Linked DNA regions of Homo sapiens. The protein of the gene in region 1 purifies or fractionates together with the protein of each later gene. This does not show direct contact. Each region holds a gene or a part of one and is shown on either strand. Other genes may lie near its edges.

Region 1 (7,638 bases):
TGAAACACTTGATTTTGAAGTGTAGCATTTGCGATAGCTAGACACAAAAGTTGTCTGTGTGGTAACAGTGACTGTAATATTTTGTTAAATCAATATTTTGCTTCGGGATTGAAACAAGAAAGATCCAAAGCAAACAAGCAACTGATTGTGCCCTTCCCAGGGCAGTGGACTCCAATCTTTCTAATCCCATTTTTGTATGTCACAATACATCCTAAGCAGCATTGTTACTCAAGGACTGAATAAATGAAGTAAGCAAATCTAGGCCCTGATCATTAAAGAGTAAATCATTCAAACGTGTATATAAATCGAATTGTTTTAGTCTTTTAGGTCATTAGCTCTTTTTCAGGACAACTACTGCAATGTTTATCAGAGCTAACTAACCTTAAATTCATTTGGTGAAAACAAATGCATAGATTTCAAGTTAATGCAGAAGATGAAAGGACAATCATTTGTTAAATGTTTATTTTTCCAAAAATATTTTTCTTTGAAGGTCAAAGAAATTTGAGATTCCCATTTTCTTAACTAAATTTATTTAAGTTCAAACCCTCCACTAATTAGTACTCTATAAACCTTGAAGGCTTTTCTGTGTCCCAGTAATTTTCAGGAACTTTTAATTATTTTTATTAAAAAAAAAAACCTAAACTAAGATTAGCACTACAAAGATAGAACTATAAATTTTGATTTGGAATTACTGTACAATAATCTAGAACTGGAGACTTAAAATTATATTTTAGATGACTAAAATGAGTTTCATAAAGATAAAGTAACTTGCTCATAAGTCACATAATAGCTTAATTTGAAATTCTAAGAGAAATAAATTTATTTTTTCTTGCTACTGAGACATGAGAAGAACAGTTTGCACTGTAATTTCATTTATTCTTTCAATAATTCAGGAAGTTTATTAAGCAAGGCCTAAGTATTAGAATTTCAATTTCATAAGATGTTACATCCTAGAAATAAGGATTTTTTGTTTTCATTTACATTTATTGGACTTTAGGTTGGTGTGAGCCATCAATTACCATAGCTAATTTCTCTTGGAACTCTTTCGAAGTGATTGTACACTATGTCTGACATCATATTTGTCATGCTCAACCTCTAATGAGCTAGCTGATCAATGTATTACAACACAATATGTCAAATATTATTATCAGTGTCCTATAGTGGCCAGGTAAGGATCCTGTTAAGTTTTCTCCAAAACGTAACAGCAAAGTATAATCAAAGTGCAAATGCTCAGTTTTGCTTATTCCTCATCGCACCCACAATCCTGGCAGAAGTATTGCTTGCATATTAACTGAATCTATCTACAAGTCATGAAATGCTTGGCGGTGAAGAAAAAAAAAAAAAGGATTACTGTGTGGCTATATTTAACTACTGGCCTCTAATTAGACCTCCCAAAAAATCTGACCATGTTTAACCTACAAACTAAGCAGGAGAACAATTACATATTTGACCTCTGTCATTTAATCAAAACCTCAACAATGCAAGAGGGTGTTACTTTTGAGCTCTAAAATGTATAACACACAAAAGCTAGTTTTACTGCAGGATTTAATATTGAAAGTTTCCATAATAAAAAGCTGGATAAGCACATTAACATTTCAAATTGTGTGTACAATCAACTTTTACTACATGGATTCTCATTTAACTCAAAGGACTTTTTATATCTCCACTTTGAACACAGAAGTTAAAACTATATAGAGAACAAGACAAGTCAGGACAGATCTGCAAGCGCCAACACTTTCCAGATTTCATAGAACACGAAGACAATACTATTGCCCTTTAAAATTGAGATTATACTGAGGAGTAGTATACGAACCCTGAAAACATAGTAGGTGTTTAAAAGAAGTAGAAATAGGACTAAATAAATAATGGATAACATTTTGGGGAAGAGCTTCCCCAGTTCCTGTCAAAGCTAGTAGTTTAAATTACAACACTGGACCTGCTTCAGATCTCTAAATAGAGGGAAGGGGATGTTGTTCAACAAGAAAAAAATTTAAAAATAATTGAAAAGTATCCTCAAATTTATTTTTACAAGAGAAGAGTGTTTTCTTTAGGAAATACCACTCTAAAAATATACAAGGCTCTTGCAGTAAAAGGGCACAGTGAACACCCAACACTGGCATTAAGATCCACCTCAATTTTGACAGCTTCTTTATCTAATGTTTAAAGCCACCTATGACCAGAGAGAAACGGAAAATATTCGCGCGCTCAAGCAGACCACTTGCCCCAACCCATACTGCTTGGAGTTAAAAGTGCCCTTTGCTGCTCACCCCACCTCCACGAACACTCAGAGATCATAGAAAGATTTAGTCTTAGAACTTCATCCACACCAAAAGGAAAGAAAGAAATGTTAAATCTCCCGGTCTTGCTCACCCCCCTGTGTCCCCTCTGTCCCTGGGGAGACTATGCGCGCCCCTGGAGGTGGGGACTGGGCGACATGCCCCTCCTTGATCCCCAGGTCCCTACACGTTACCCAAGAGACAATGACAAGGAGTCCCAGGGCATCTCCTCAAACTCTCTCTGACCTCCCTCCAGGACAGCTGGTGTGAGCTGGAACAGACAGAACATGGCACGACACGCGGGAATGCAGAGTGACAGAGGGTGCGGTAAGCAGAAGGTGCCGCAAGGAGACAGAACCGAGGCGACCGGGTAAACCCCAGAGACAGCGTAAGAGGAGCAAGAGGGGCCCTCCCAGGGAAGCTACATTTTCTCCTCTGCTACCAGCCTTCTTTCTTTCGCCCACCCCTCCCCCATCCCGCCCTGGGACAGCTACCTTGCCGGTCAGTATCTGAGTTCTGACCGTGCGGCTCAGGAGGGCCTCCACGTCTTGCCGCGCCTCCTCCTTTTGCACGGCGGTAGGGGTATTGAAGGCGATTTTCACCATAGTGAATCTTCGGGCTGCGCGGTAAGGCGCTGCTGGAATCAGCGTCCTGGGCTGCAGACTGCAAGAGGAGATCCTGTTAGCCCAAACAGCACTTACTTTATCTTCAGTCTAACACTACTGCAAGCCGAGGTCTGGGATACTTATGACGCAGTCCCAAACTGGGGGGAGACCGTGGGCGGGCCCAGGGAGGTGCCTAAAGGGAGGAGCGAGAGGGGGCCCAAAAGGGGCCCAAGTGCCTGAGTTGGGGGTTTGCGAGGTGGCGCGGATTTGCCACTGGGGGAAGAGCAGGGGAAGTGGAGTCCGTGGCCGGCTCAGGCTAAACGTGCCTCACCTGCACCTCAGGCATACTCCCACCCACTCTCTGCAACTTCAGATAAGAGCAAGACAGGAAGGAAGCCTGCTGTGTCGTGTCTTTCTGCCTCTGTCCAGGCCACAATAGCCCCTGACTATGACTGTTTTCTCAAACTTGGACCTGACTCCCCGCAGGGCCTGGGACTGTAGCTTGGCAGTAACTCAAACTTCCTTAGTTCTGGACCCACCCAGGCCCCCAAAGCGCCATTCTACAAAGGTTCTGTTCCTTGATAATAATATCTTCCTTTTAAAGGACACCTAGAATCCTGTTTATAGTTACCCAGTTGATTCTTTCAACAAATTGTTATTTTTTTTATTTGCTTGCTTGTGTTTTGAAATTTTAATATCTCAACCTAAGGCGATGCTAGATCAGAAAGATAGGGCTCCTGCCTCCCCAACACCCCATTTTGTAGATAAGACATGATGAGACAGAGAAGGGTGGAAAGCTTACAATAAATTCCTGAAATAATCTAGATTTTTCACTCTTCCAGGTCAGGGAAACCAGTGTAAAGTCTCAACCCAGAGACTGTTTCTGTTCAGCCACCAGCTGTGAAACCTGCAGGGGGAAAAAAAAAACGTGTGTGTGTGTGTGTGTGTGTGTGTGTGTGTGTATAAGTACTTATGTGTTCAGGAAGGTGGAGGTGGAGGTGGAGGATACAAAATTTAGCCAGATGCTAATACCGATCTAATGGAGGAAAAAACAATAACTTCAAAGGGGTTGAGTTAGAAATTATTCTTGGAACATTTACATGTGCAGCCAGTATAATCAAGCTGTTTCTTCACAGTCAGTTTTTCCAGGTTAGTGATACTGATAGAGAACCTTACCAAGTACAATGCAGGCTTTGGAGGTTGCTGACTGGGGTAGCACTGGTACACAGTTTATAAATAGTCCCGCTGCAGAAGACAGGAGAAAGGTCTGTTGTGTGAAGACAGTAGCACTTACCAAAACAACAGCATCAAACAAAACAAAACAAAGAAACAGCTTTTGCTACAGAATTTACCATCTACTCATCTACCTAAGAAACGGACTTAAATATGTTGAGTCGCCACCCCTTCATCCGAAAAATTCCAACTTGGCGTTTTTCCCACTGATGTTTCCTTGACTCAGAAGCCTGTCTCCTGTTTCCACTGTGGGACCTTTGTGAAGACAGCATTCATTTTCTTGGATAGGCCACAGATGGGAAGGTGGATGGAGGGGAACAGCGGGGAGCCTGTGCCTTACTTAGGGCCAGAATCTTAAAAAGCAGGATGTTTGAGTTTGCTTAGAAATATTGGCATCCTATGTTCTTTCACTTATTATTGCTCAAGATTGACCATTATAATTTAATATTTATCAGGCAACCTTTAGTGTAAGCTGAGGAACTCTCACCTTCCTAGAATGTTTCTCTTTACAGTTGCCTTCCGCTTGCAATCACCTTTGTGACATCTCCACTATGGTCTGTGCTAGTCTGGCCCGGTGATCCACACTCATGGTTGCTCTTGCACATTTACTTAGTAAGTGCAAGGTTCTGGGCGGGATTGTGATGTATTATCTTAGTATATCTTTCCTGAAATGGGGTCGGGCAGAAGGAGAGGGATTCTTTTCATTTTTTCAGATGAATAGATCAAAATTATGATAACGATCAAGGGAGTATGTGATCAATTTCTGGGTACATAATATTGAGCAAGTCACTTCGTCTTCTCAGATGTCAGTTTCTTCATTTGTGTCCTGTTGCTGTGAGGATTATTTGGTATAATGCAAGAGGAAATACCTTTTAAATTATTATGAAAAGGATAGGGAGTGAAATGTTTTGTTATCCTGGGATTGTTATTTTATTCTGTAACATACGCATGTTTCAAGCTTATAAGAATTATTCTTCTTATTATTTACCCTTCAACCATTCTTAACATTCTAGAACTGCTTAAGATCCCACAGTACCTGAATATAGGTCTTACTGGAAAAGGTTAAACTTCTAAGAATAGTCACATAAATTGACATCTAACTTCTCTTTTGGATTTTGAAGAATTTGGCCATCTCCTATTTGTTAACAACGCATCCTCTTTTAGGTATGGGTCTTTGCTACCGTTGGACATATGTGATGCAGGCACAGTCTCACATTGGCAGATACCACAGTTTCCTTCTCAATATATAAAATAATACTTGTGTTAGGATCATAGAATAGCAACAACACCCATTGTCTGTATCCATTCCAGGAAGGTTAAATAGTTCCTGAATATTTTTTGAACTGCAAAATATAAGCTGCCACTTGCTCCTAGGGTTGAAATCAGTAATGAACACACTTCCGTCTACTAAAAAAAATGATTCTCCGCTAGGCTCTTTCTTGTATTCTCTCCTTCCCAGTAACAATTTCTTTTTTTCTAGAATCAATTTCTCTCACTTTCTTGTCTTTGGAAAATGGGGATCTGGCTGCTATGCTGATTCTAGCTCACATTGTTAACTACATCTGAATGCATACCATTCAAGTTTATAAATGACTTCCCTGTTCTCACATGCCAAATGATGACTAAATTATCATAAGTTGGTCTGAATGGAACATGGCATGTAATTGAATGCCAAGCAATGATGTCAACTTTCTTTGAATGATCTTCTGAAATTACCACAAATGCAATCACATAAAGCTAAACCAATAAGGGTATCTATAATACCATTTCACCCATTAACTCATGTATTCATTAATCAAATATTTACTGAGGATCTACTATGTGCCTTGTGCTGTGATTGGCATAAGAATACAGTGGTGAGCAAAACAGATACACTCTTGTCCTTACAGAGCGCATCATTACTATACCAATGGCAATGATGTACTTGTCGTGGGTTCTCCAGTTTTTGTAGTAGGAACACTGGGCTTATGCTGTGGAGTAGGATATAACAATTCTACAAACCAGCAGAATAGGTCCACCCACAGCCAATGCTACTAGGAATATTTAAATGACTAGCACATTTGCAATGGCTTCACATGCAGCACTCTATTTAGGAAGATTAATCTGACAGCAAATGTATTGGGAAACCAGTTGGGGGTGCTCGTCTATATTCCTGGTGACAGGTGGTGAACTATATTGATAATTGAAACACTGAAAACAAAAGAACAACTTCCAAAGAAGTCTAGGAGCCATTCTTTACAAGGCCTGCTGCTGGAATAAGTCATATGAAGGAGAAACATTAGAAAAAAAAAAGATTTTGTTTTGAATGAATGGGAATTCCAGACTGGGAAAATGGTAGTGCCCTTAATATGAAACATTTGTTGAACACAGTAAATGCCAGATTTCTGCGCTAAGCCCTTTAAATTGATTATGTCATTTAATCTTTACCACAACTCTGTGAAGTATTATTATATACTTCATTGCACTGATAGAGACACTGAATTTCCAAGAGGTTAGATAACTTGCTTAAGGTCAAATTCTAACCCAGGTAGTCAGTGTTTATATTCTTAGCCACTATATTGTCTTACTGCCACAAAAAGAAATGGGAAAATCAAGAAGAGAGCTGGTTTTAAAGCAGGAGAAAATAATCAGAATATTCTCTAGGGCATGAAGCATGAATCTCCTCCCCATACTGCAAACAGAAATTCCTGCTTAGAATTTTATTCAGGACTAACCACGTTTGAAACCTTCTTAAGACTTTCCCAGCCTACCCATGACTATAGGCTACTGATCCTAAAGCATATTTCTTCTGAGTTCTCCAGTTGCTTCTGTCAACAATGAAGCAGCTACACAGAGAGCTGGCCAGCCATCTGTTTCTGGGTATAATTCCAAAAGTTTGGTTTAGATCTTTAAAGAGCCAGGCTATTTTCCAGGTCCACTCTTTCCCTGTACACATAGCTTGATCCTGGGAGCAGAGCTAGTGCTCCCCAGTGAAAGTAATAGAAGGCATTTGCTTTCTGGAATAGATTATTGTTTCTCCAGGCCATTTAACGTTTTCTCTGTAGACTGAGTATGCTATGATAATAGGAGGATGTAACATTTTCTTAAATATGAGAAAAGATTCCATCATCCCATCACAATGATGTGGTTATATATTCGAGGTTGAGAAGTTGTGTGCCACCCTAATTTATAAAAATCACTTTGCTTTTTTGCCACATAGAACAACCAAGTACATCTGATAAAAATGTTTGCACTTTCAATGCACCTTTCTAAATTGTGTAAAATTTCTAATCTCATCTTAGACTATCTTTGGGGACTTTTAAAATAGCTATCTGAAAGGTCTTATGAGAACTCTAGTTCTGAGAAATGCAAGTGAGAAACTCAAATCTAGTGCCAGTAATGCTTTTGCGAATACCCAGTTGGTTCAGTTGCTCCATACTATAGCACCAAGTGATAGTAAGCTGTCTTTGTGACAGCTTCAGAGTTAGGTTCCCATTCAATAAAAGCACAGGCACTTGCATTTTTTATATATGATTGTTAAACCA
Region 2 (7,054 bases), 1.3 Mb from region 1:
TAGAATCCCTAATATAAGAGCATGAGAAAAATCCTTCTACAATATTTTGAAAAGTGAAGGTAACATCATGAATGCTGTGTCAGTGCATGACAAGTTAAACTGGCAGCACTCTCCATGGCCTTTTATAATGCAGTGTCATCATCTTCCCTGAAGTCTCCCACCAGGAGTGAGTGCTTGTCAGGTTCACTGGTAACAACACTGTTTAGGGAGCGTTTATCAGACAGTAGTGAGTTTATAGAGGCTCTGCTATAATTAACAATCCGGTCCAGCAAACCCAGTTTAGGAGAATTCCTTGAGGTATCATCTATTCCAACATGAACGCTGATTTCTGAAGGACTCTTCTGTCCTATCTGGCTCCGGGCAGGCAGTTCATAACTCTCGTAAGTTGGTTTCCTGTAACTGGACATATGCAAAAGTATGCTAGTTTCAAATAACCAAAAGTAAATGAGATGCTCGCTACATGCAGAAAAGAAAGAAGATTTGCTCATCCACACTTAGTTTTGGTATGAAATGTATAAAGGTGATCACTGGTAGGAAAATAGCTTGAAACGAATTGTGTGGAGTTATATCATCAGAAACCCTACTTCTCAGAATTAGTGCACTATATTTTATCCCACTCAGTGCTTGTGGTTGCTATGCATAAAGTACACGAAGTAACAATTACATAGCTAATTATTACTGTTAGCTAATAATAATTCTTTTCTTTTTTTGAGATGGAATCTCACTCTGTTGCCTAGGCTGGAGTGCAGTGGCACGATCTCAGCTCACTGCAACCTCCACCTCCCAGGTTCAAGTGATTCTCCTGCCTCAGCCTCCCGAGTAGCTGAGATTACAGGTGTCTACCACCATGCCCAGCTAATTTTTGTATTTCTAGTAGACATAGGGTTTCACCATATTGGCCAGACTGGTCTCAAATTACTGACCTCAGGTGATCTGCCCACCTCGGCCTCCCAAAGTGCTGGGATTACAGGTGTGAGCCACCACGCCCGGCCGCTAATAATAATTCTCATTAAGAATGGTTTGGGCTTATCATTGATCAATACAAGAATAAAACCTACCAAGAATGACTAGATGATAACAGGAATACAAAATACAAATGTGAGCAAGCTATCATACTTACAGTTTAAGGAAGAGAGAAGAAAGTACTACAGAAACAGATGAAGCAGCCATTGCTGCAGATCCCATCCAGGGCTGCAAAACCAAACCAATGGGCATAAAAACTCCTAAGAAACAAGTATGGATTAGTTAGAGTAGATAATACTAAACAGATTATTAATGTGTTTCTAACATACATACAAATCATTTCTTTGTTTGATACTTCTTCAGCATTTATCCTCTTGGTGGTAGAGATTTTTGTTGTTGCCATTTTTTTCACTAACAGAGTGTTGCTGTTAACATTCTTGTACATGTCTCCCCGTGTCCATGTTTGAGAGTTTCTGTGGGGTATATACCTAGGGGTGAAACTACTGGGTCATAACATGGGCACATCTTCAACTTTACGTGGATATTCCTCAGCTGTTCTCCAAAGTGGCTGTAGTGATTCAAAATCCAACCAATAGCGTATGGGAGTTCATGTTCTACAAACTCATCCACACTTGGTTTTCACAGACATAAGAATGTTTGCTCACATGATGAGGATGAAATAGACTCATACTTTTAACTTTTTATGTGCTTCTTTATATTTTTCTACTTTTTCTATGGTGATCATATATTACTTGTATAATTATTTAAAAATCACTTGCTCCATGAATTAATCTTACTGGACTTAGATTGTTCTTTTGTTCTTTGTTCTCTCAGTATTTGTGTGTCCTTGCTGATAAACAGTTTTGTAATTGTTCTCATGTCATTTCTTGTCTTTCCTTGGCCCTCAAACCAGAGAGAACAAGAAGAAAACAATACTTATTTCTTTTATGTCATCATTACTAACTCCTACCAGGTCCCTAAGTTTAGGAGATTCTCAGATGCTTATTAAATAACTCTAAATTCTTTTTTCTCAGTTATATTGCTTTGTTCACTCTCTCTGTCATCTGGTCTCTCAACCTAAAAAAAATACCAGCTGACTATAATAGAATATTAAGTGAAGAGCAGAAAATTCTCCATAAGCTACAATCACAACTATGTAACAAGACAAAAACTGATGTAGAGTAAAAAAAAGACTAGAGGAAAATACTTGTATAATTCTTTAAAAATCATTTGCTCCATGAATTAATCTTGCAAACAGTGTTGGGTTTGGGTAGTCAGATTAAAGGTAAATCTATTTAGAAAAAAATTAATAAGCAAACAAATACATATCTCTGTGCAAATATATGCAGAAAGAGATGAAGCAATGTGGCAAAATACCATCAGTTGGTGAGTTTAGGTGAAAGGCATACAGATTTTTATTGTACCATTTTTTTCAATGTTTTTGGAGGTATGAATTTTTTTTTTTTTTTTTTTTGGAGACGGAGTTTCGCTCTTGTTGCCCAGGCTGAAGTGCGATGGCGCGATCTTGGCTCACCACAACCTCCACCTCTTGGGTTCAAGCGAGTCTACTGCCTCCGTCTCCCGAGTAGCTGGGATTACATGCATGTGCCACCACGCCCGGCTAATTTTGTATTTTTAGTAGAGACGGGGTTTCTCCATGTTGGTCAGGCTGGTCTTGAACTCCCAACCTCAGGTGATCCGCCCACCTCAGCCTCCCAAAGTGCTGGGATTACAGGTGTCAAGTTTGAAATTTTTCAAAATACAAAGTTGAAGGCTGGGAGTGGTGGCTCACAGCTGTAATCCCAACACTTTGGGAGGCCGAGGTGGGTGGATTACCTGAAGTCAGGAGTTCGAGACCAGCCTGGCCAACATGGAGAAACCCCGTCTATACTAAAAATACAAAAATTAGTTGGGCGTTGTGGCGGGCACCTATAGTCCCAGTTACTCAGGAGGCTGAGGCAGGAGAACTGCTTGAACCCAGGAGATGGAGGCTGCAGTGAGCCGAGATTGTATGACTGCACTCCAGCCTGGGCAACAGAGTGAGACTCTGTCTCAAAAAAAAAAAAAAAAAAGTTGGAGGGAAAAAAATAAATCTGTCAGAATGCTTATATATTCTTAAGCTATAACAAACATTACTGAAAATTAAAATGATTGATTTTAACATTACCTCTCACCATACCAGTAGGCTACAAACAAAAACTAAGCTCAAAACTAATAGTAAGAAGACAGGCTTCCAATATGTTAGGTCTCTAATAACTTTAGTGGAAAAAGCAGTACTAGTTAAGAGTCACATACCAGCAGCTATGGGAATTCCAACCAGATTATAAATTAGAGCAAAGACAAAATTTATCCGAATCCTCTTGACTGTCTTTCTTGATAAGTCAATACTTGCCACTACATCCAGAAGATCATTCTAAGAACAGAAATATTTGTGATATTAGTAAGAGACTCTAACTTAACCAGTAACTTTTACATTTGATACTGTGTATGTTGAAGATTACGTCTACCTTAGGGTAATATGTGAATTAATTACAAATCTCAGATAATGCTAAAACTTAGACTCAGCTTCCGAAGGTGTTTTTCAAAAATTTTCCTCAGGGTTCTGAAAACACTTTTAGGGGTGTATGCTGGTACTATGATTAAATCTACTTAAAATAATCTCAGCAACTATTTGTTGAAGATCATTTTATTCCGAATCCATTCTTAAATCTTCTTCTTCACTTCAGAAACTTATAATTCTCACTTGCTTATGAGCTGGGTTGAGAAAGTCAGGGGGTAAATTAGCATGACTTCCCATAATCCCACTCCATATTCTTAAACTCTTAATGGCTGATAGCATGGAACTTAAGACAGAATTGTTATGCTCAATATACTTTATGACATTATCATTGACCACATAGGGCAGTCTCATACTCCTCAAAGGTCAAGCCATGGCACTTACCCTTATCAAAACCACATCAGCTGCTTCAATGGCTACATCTGTGCCTGTGCCAATAGCAATTCCCACATTAGCCATTGCCAGAGCTGGGGAGTCATTGATTCCATCTCCCACCATTGCTACCCGTTTCCCCTCCTCTTGAAGTTGCTTCACTTTAGCAACCTTGTGAGAAGGTAGAACTTCAGCAAACACCTTAGTAATGCCAACCTATGTGATGAAAATAAACTCAATTCATTTAAAAAATAATGAGTACGTGAAACATAACTGAGCAATAACAAGCCATCAGTTTTCACCCACAAGATGTCCACATTTTAAAAGACTGATAATATCTAGTGATAGCAAGGATGTGGAGAAATGAGCTCTCTTATACACCAGTGGCTGGTGTGTAAATTGTAACTCTTTTTGGAGGGCATCTGGCAGCATCTATCAAAATGTGAGCATCATTTGGTCTAGCAATTCCATGTCTAGCTCTATCTTGGACAGGCTTGCACATGTACAGAAAGATACATGTCCAAAGATGTTTATTATTGCCTTGTTTGCAAAAAGAAAATTTTCAAAACCACCCAAATGTCCATCATTAGGGAAATGGTTAAATAAATTATGATACATCCATACCATGGAATTCAGTATAGAAAGAATAAAGTAACTTTGTAACTTTTTTTTTTTTTTTTTTTTGAGACAGAGTCTTGCTCTGTCACCCAGGCTGGAGTGCAATGGTACCATCTCGGCTCACTGCAACCTCCGCCTCCTGGTTCAAGCGATTCTCCTGCCTCAGCCTCCTGAGTAGCTGGGATTACAGGCATGCGCCACCACACCCGGCTAATTTTTGTATTTTTAGTAGAGACAAGGTTTCACCATGCTGGCCAGGCTGGTCTCAAACTCCCGACCTCATGTGATCTGCCCACTTCAGCCTCCCAAAGTGCTGGGATTACAGGCGTGAGCCAACAAACCCGGCCAAAATAACTTTATGTTCAGATATGGATGAAGCTCCAAAGTATACTGTTACGTAAAAAAAGCAAACTACTGAACAATCTGTTCAAAATGATCTGATGTTGAAAAGACCAGAATTATACTGTATATGTACTCTGTATATGCACATATATGCATATGAAAAAGTGGCAGTGTGAGGGGCAGTAGGACTGAATGGGGAGCATGGGGAAAAGAGGACATTTTTACTTTATATCCTTCTGTATTTTTTACATAAGAAGGTGTTAATAGGCCGGGTGCGGTGGCTCACACGTGTAATCCCAGCACTTTGGGAGGCCGAGGCGGGCGGATCACCTGAGGTCCGAAGTTCACGACCAGCTTGACCAACATGGAGAAACCCTGTCTCTACTAAAAATACAAAATTAGCCGGGCGTGGTGGTGTATGCATGTAATCCTAGCTACTCGGGAGGCTGAGGCAAGAGAATCGCTTGAACCCAGGAGGTGGAGGTTGCGATGAGCCGAGATCGCGCCACTGCACTTCAGCCTGGGCAACAAGAGCGAAACTCCGTCCCAAGAAAAAAAAAAGAAACAAAAGAATGTATTAAAAGATTACTTGCATTATTTATTAGAAGAGGGGAGAAGGCATTCCAAAGTTAAAAAGATTGAAAAATTTTAGAGATAAGGCAGATGTGGGAGTCAGGAGCAGAAAAATGGTATGTCAAAGTGGTGCATTAGGAAAATAGTTCCATTGGTGGTGGTATTTAGGATGGACTAGAGAGGGATGTGTGTGGAGCTATTGCTGTGTTTCAGGCATGAGATCAGGAGAGCCCAGCTTAGGTTGGCAGCACTGGTAAAGAATATGAGCAACATTTCAAAGGGCACATCAACAGAAATTGGTGTACAGTGTCACGCAAGCATCCCATGAACTAAGCAAATACCTTTTTACGTATAACAGCAACACACAAAGCCCAAAGTCTTTCCAGCAAAGCATGGTAAATTTTCTTGAAGGAACCAGATAGGACTACTCAGTGATAATGAAAATAGTAGGTAATGTAAATTTCTTAGCATTTGAAGGCAAGATATAAAATGTATATCAATAATTAGAAGTTATCACATACCCCTATCAATTACCTGAGAAGCAATAGATCTAGCTGTTTTACTGTTGTCTCCAGTCATCAGAACTACTTCTAAGCCCATAGATTTCAGAATATGGATAGCCAGTTCTGCTTCAGGCTTCACTGTGTCTGCAATGGCTATCAAGCCACACAGCTCATCTAATATAGGGGCAGCACAAAATAAAAGAACTTGGAATATAGTGAAAGGAGAATAACATTTTGACTTGAAATTTCAGAATGAAATGAATTTTCTCAAGTAAAGTTGTTCAGGGCATGGCTTAACTTAAAATATCTCTAAGCCCACACAGACTTTATACTACAAACTCTGTAACAAGCCTCCATATTTGGTTATGAAAATTTCAGAGTGAGGTAGGGGTTACTAATAAAGTAATCACAGGAAAATAAAAAGAGAGACCTTACTGGATATTAGAAGACCCTTTTTGTTCCTCAGAAAGGTATTTGCCAACAGCCTCAAACACTTTATCTAATTTATAGGCAAATGAAACTGAAGATTAATACTTTTTTTCTTTTTAAGGTAAGGGGGGGGGGGCAGAGAGAGACAAAATGGGCACTTTATAGTGGGAAAAATATTACCATAAATCTTATTATTTTATTCTATTTACAAAACAAAAGTAAAATGGTATTCTCTGCTTCTTCCCAGACCTAAAAAGGCCATAGTAAAAGACTGCCTTCATACTTAGCAGACATTATAAATGTAGAGTGGAATTAATCTCACAACTAGAAATTTACCCTAAGAAATAACAAAATAAAGCACATACAACCTCAAAGATATTTATTGTAGTGTCATTTACAATAGTGAAATATTAGGAATAGCCTAAATTTCCAACAAGAGGGGAATGATTATAGTGTGTAAGATTGATAAATTATGCAGTATTATAGTAAAATTATATAGCAACATTAGAAAGCATTAAGTAAAATAAAGCATAATAAAATAGTATGTGTACAAGTGATTTTAACTTTATTGAGGTAAAATTTACTTACGATAAAATGTACCCAGTAAAAAATGGTATATGTACTAATACTGTAATTCTGCAAACACACACACATTTCAAGAAAACTAGGAATGGAATATACAAAATTAAAACTGACG
Region 3 (2,695 bases), on another chromosome or scaffold:
CAACATAAAAAGAGCAACATGATTTTTTTCTGGAACTTGACATGCTGATTTAAAAGTTTAAGGCAAGAAAATTCTGAAAGTTAGGGAGATGACAACCATACCACATCTTAAAATACATTAAAATAAATGTTAATAGTTTGGTCCCATTACTATATGACAAGAATGGCAGAATAATGGAATACAATAAAAGCCCAGAAATAGAACTAACTAAAAATGAAAATTTACCATATGACAAAGGCATTGTGTCAAAACTGTGGTGAAAGATGGACTGTTTGGTAAATGATTCTGGGATAAATGGCTAGCTTTCTGGGGAGAAATATTATATCCCTACCTATAAGTGCACATCTGTAAGTATATGCTGTGCACATATAGAGTGTCTGAAAGAATGCATATGAACTTTTTACTTGTTCCACAGACTAAGACAATTGAGGATCAGAAATGTAAGATTTACTTTTTATTTACATATTCATTTTTTTTAAACCATGTATAATTAGTAACCCTTTCAATGAACAAACTTGTTAACATTTTTGATTTAGTTGGCAGGCAGTTGGAGTTTGACCTTTTGAAGCATTAACTTGACTGACTTTTCTGTGTTTCTCCCCAGTGACCTGTGCATGGATTGTGCCTTGCAGCTGGAGACCTGCCCATTGTGTCGTAAAGAAATAGTATCTAGAATCAGACAGATTTCTCATATTTCATGACACATGTGAAGAGGCATCGTGGACTTTTTTCTACTCAATTCCAGCCAATGTTGAAAAGAAAAAGAAAAAAAAAACTCTCTAATCAGTTGTACACACATTGAAACTTATAGCCATGGCCAGATTTTATGCTAAAAATGGTAGTTTGTCAAAGACAAAATTCTCTTAGAATCTAATCCAACTTGCCAGCCCTGAGAAAATCCCTTTTAAGGCCAAGGAAAGCTGAATGCTAGCAGCCAGGCCTGTGGTACTTCCATGAGAAACCATAGCAGACAATGCCCTCCCAAGTACTGAAATCACACTGGAATCCCCCTTGTTGGGTTCATTTGATTGTTTAACACAGGATGTGTTGTGTCATTCTGAAGTTTTTATTTGGGGCAGAAGTCTTTATGGAGATGTAAATGACAGCGTTTCTGGGTTATGCATAACTTCTCACTGGTCAGAGACACCGGTGTGTCAAGCATGGATATTGCATTGCAAGACTTGAATCTATAAAAATTAGAATCACACAGTCAGTACTACAAGCAAAACAGAGAACCTGAAAGAAGGTGCACAGACTGTAAGAAAAAACCCAAGTTTGTGATATTTCAGTGATTCCAAAGAACATTCTAGGTTTTTTGTTTGTTTTTTTGTTTTTTGGGTTTTTTTTTTTTACTGCAGAAAATTGGTGGTATTTTCACATTCATAGTGTTTCTATCCAATTTCAGTACCCACATTTAATGAGGAAAAAATGTTTTACCAATGAAGGAGGAATTCTTAAATTAGCTGTAATGTTAGGTTGGAGAAAATTTGGTATTTAGGGTATTTTCAAGGTACCATCAAATCAGATTTCTGTTTTTTTGTTAAAAAAAATTTTTTTAATCAGTATTGTTTTTACAAGTAATATACTTTGAAACTCTTGAACTAATAGTCTCAAAAACTCTAGAGGACAGTCTGAGAACACGTATTTCTATTGTTCTAAATAAATACATGTTTTTGAATAGTTCAATCATGAATTATTGACTATGTCTTCATCAAAAGTGTTAATCCCTCTCAGGGTCTCTGGTGAAGACCTTCAAGAGTTTGGTTTTTTCTCCCAGGAAATTGGAAGGTAGAATTGTAAATTCATAGAACTTCTTTTATAATGGTGTACCTCAGCAGCTGCCTTTCAATTTATGCCAAGTCCTTACAGAGTTTATACTTGAATAGTAAATATGTCTTCTGAGTTTTACAGTGTCTTAAACTCAATGCACATTTTTTTTTCTTCTTTTTCCACCCCTTCTTGTTTGTAGTTCATTATACCTGTCCTATTACAGAACTGATTTCCTTCCTGGCTGTACATGTTGGGGTGCTGGATTTTTTTCCGTGTCTTTAGTCTTCCATAAATCCACACACACACACACACACAAAAAATATATATATATATAAATATATATGTAGGATACATGTTCTCTTCTTTAGCTTGTGGTGAATACAGTAATTTGCATTGAAGAATAAAACATCTGTTGCCTTTTTTGACTAAGATTTCACAACTTTCATTGGTGTATACTGCTAAGGTTCCAAGACATTATACTCTCAGACTTTAAGGGCTACTTTTGGGAGTAGGAGAGAATCAAGTATTAGAATTAAGAATAAGGCCACTTACTCATCCAGCAGATTGTTATTGAGCACCTAATATGTGCTGGGCACTGTGCCTATGTGGCATACAAAATATGCTTGTAGAGCTTATGTCTAATAAGCTTGTCTAATTATTGTCTATTATTATGTCTAACAGTAATTTGGAAGTGGTCCAGCTGAGACTAAAGGTAGTCTGTACATTTAGTAGAGAGAGGGAAAAATAGATGGAATTAATAGATAATTTGCGAGGCAAAGGAATGCAGGAGCCTAACAGCTTTCTAAAAATCTACCCTTGAAGTTTGTTCCTAAGGTGGGGAGAAGACAATATATTTGTGTTTATTGTAACAGATTTTTAGTGGAAAAGAATAGGGTCCTAGAGAGAATGAGGGGGACCTAATTTA

What was found. The genes of interacting proteins can lie anywhere in the genome.
Region 2: the proteins of ITM2A (region 1) and ATP7A purify together in Homo sapiens (affinity purification with mass spectrometry; 2 studies listed by BioGRID and IntAct, with this or other methods). This does not show direct contact.
Region 3: the proteins of ITM2A (region 1) and RSPRY1 purify together in Homo sapiens (affinity purification with mass spectrometry; 2 studies listed by BioGRID and IntAct, with this or other methods). This does not show direct contact.

What each region holds. Positions count from the first base shown.
Region 1 is NC_000023.11:79,364,335-79,371,972, forward strand, and holds the start of ITM2A (integral membrane protein 2A), read right to left. Parts: upstream 3,001-7,638; 5' UTR 2,882-3,000; coding exon 2,771-2,881; intron 1-2,770.
Region 2 is NC_000023.11:78,039,639-78,046,692, reverse strand, and holds part of ATP7A (copper-transporting ATPase 1), read right to left. Parts: intron 6,103-7,054; coding exon 5,960-6,102; intron 4,109-5,959; coding exon 3,905-4,108; intron 3,377-3,904; coding exon 3,259-3,376; intron 1,224-3,258; coding exon 1,121-1,223; intron 400-1,120; coding exon 123-399; 3' UTR 1-122. UniProt on the Homo sapiens protein: ATP-driven copper (Cu(+)) ion pump that plays an important role in intracellular copper ion homeostasis.
Region 3 is NC_000016.10:57,238,275-57,240,969, forward strand, and holds the end of RSPRY1 (RING finger and SPRY domain-containing protein 1 isoform 1 precursor), read left to right. Parts: intron 1-604; coding exon 605-701; 3' UTR 702-2,195; downstream 2,196-2,695.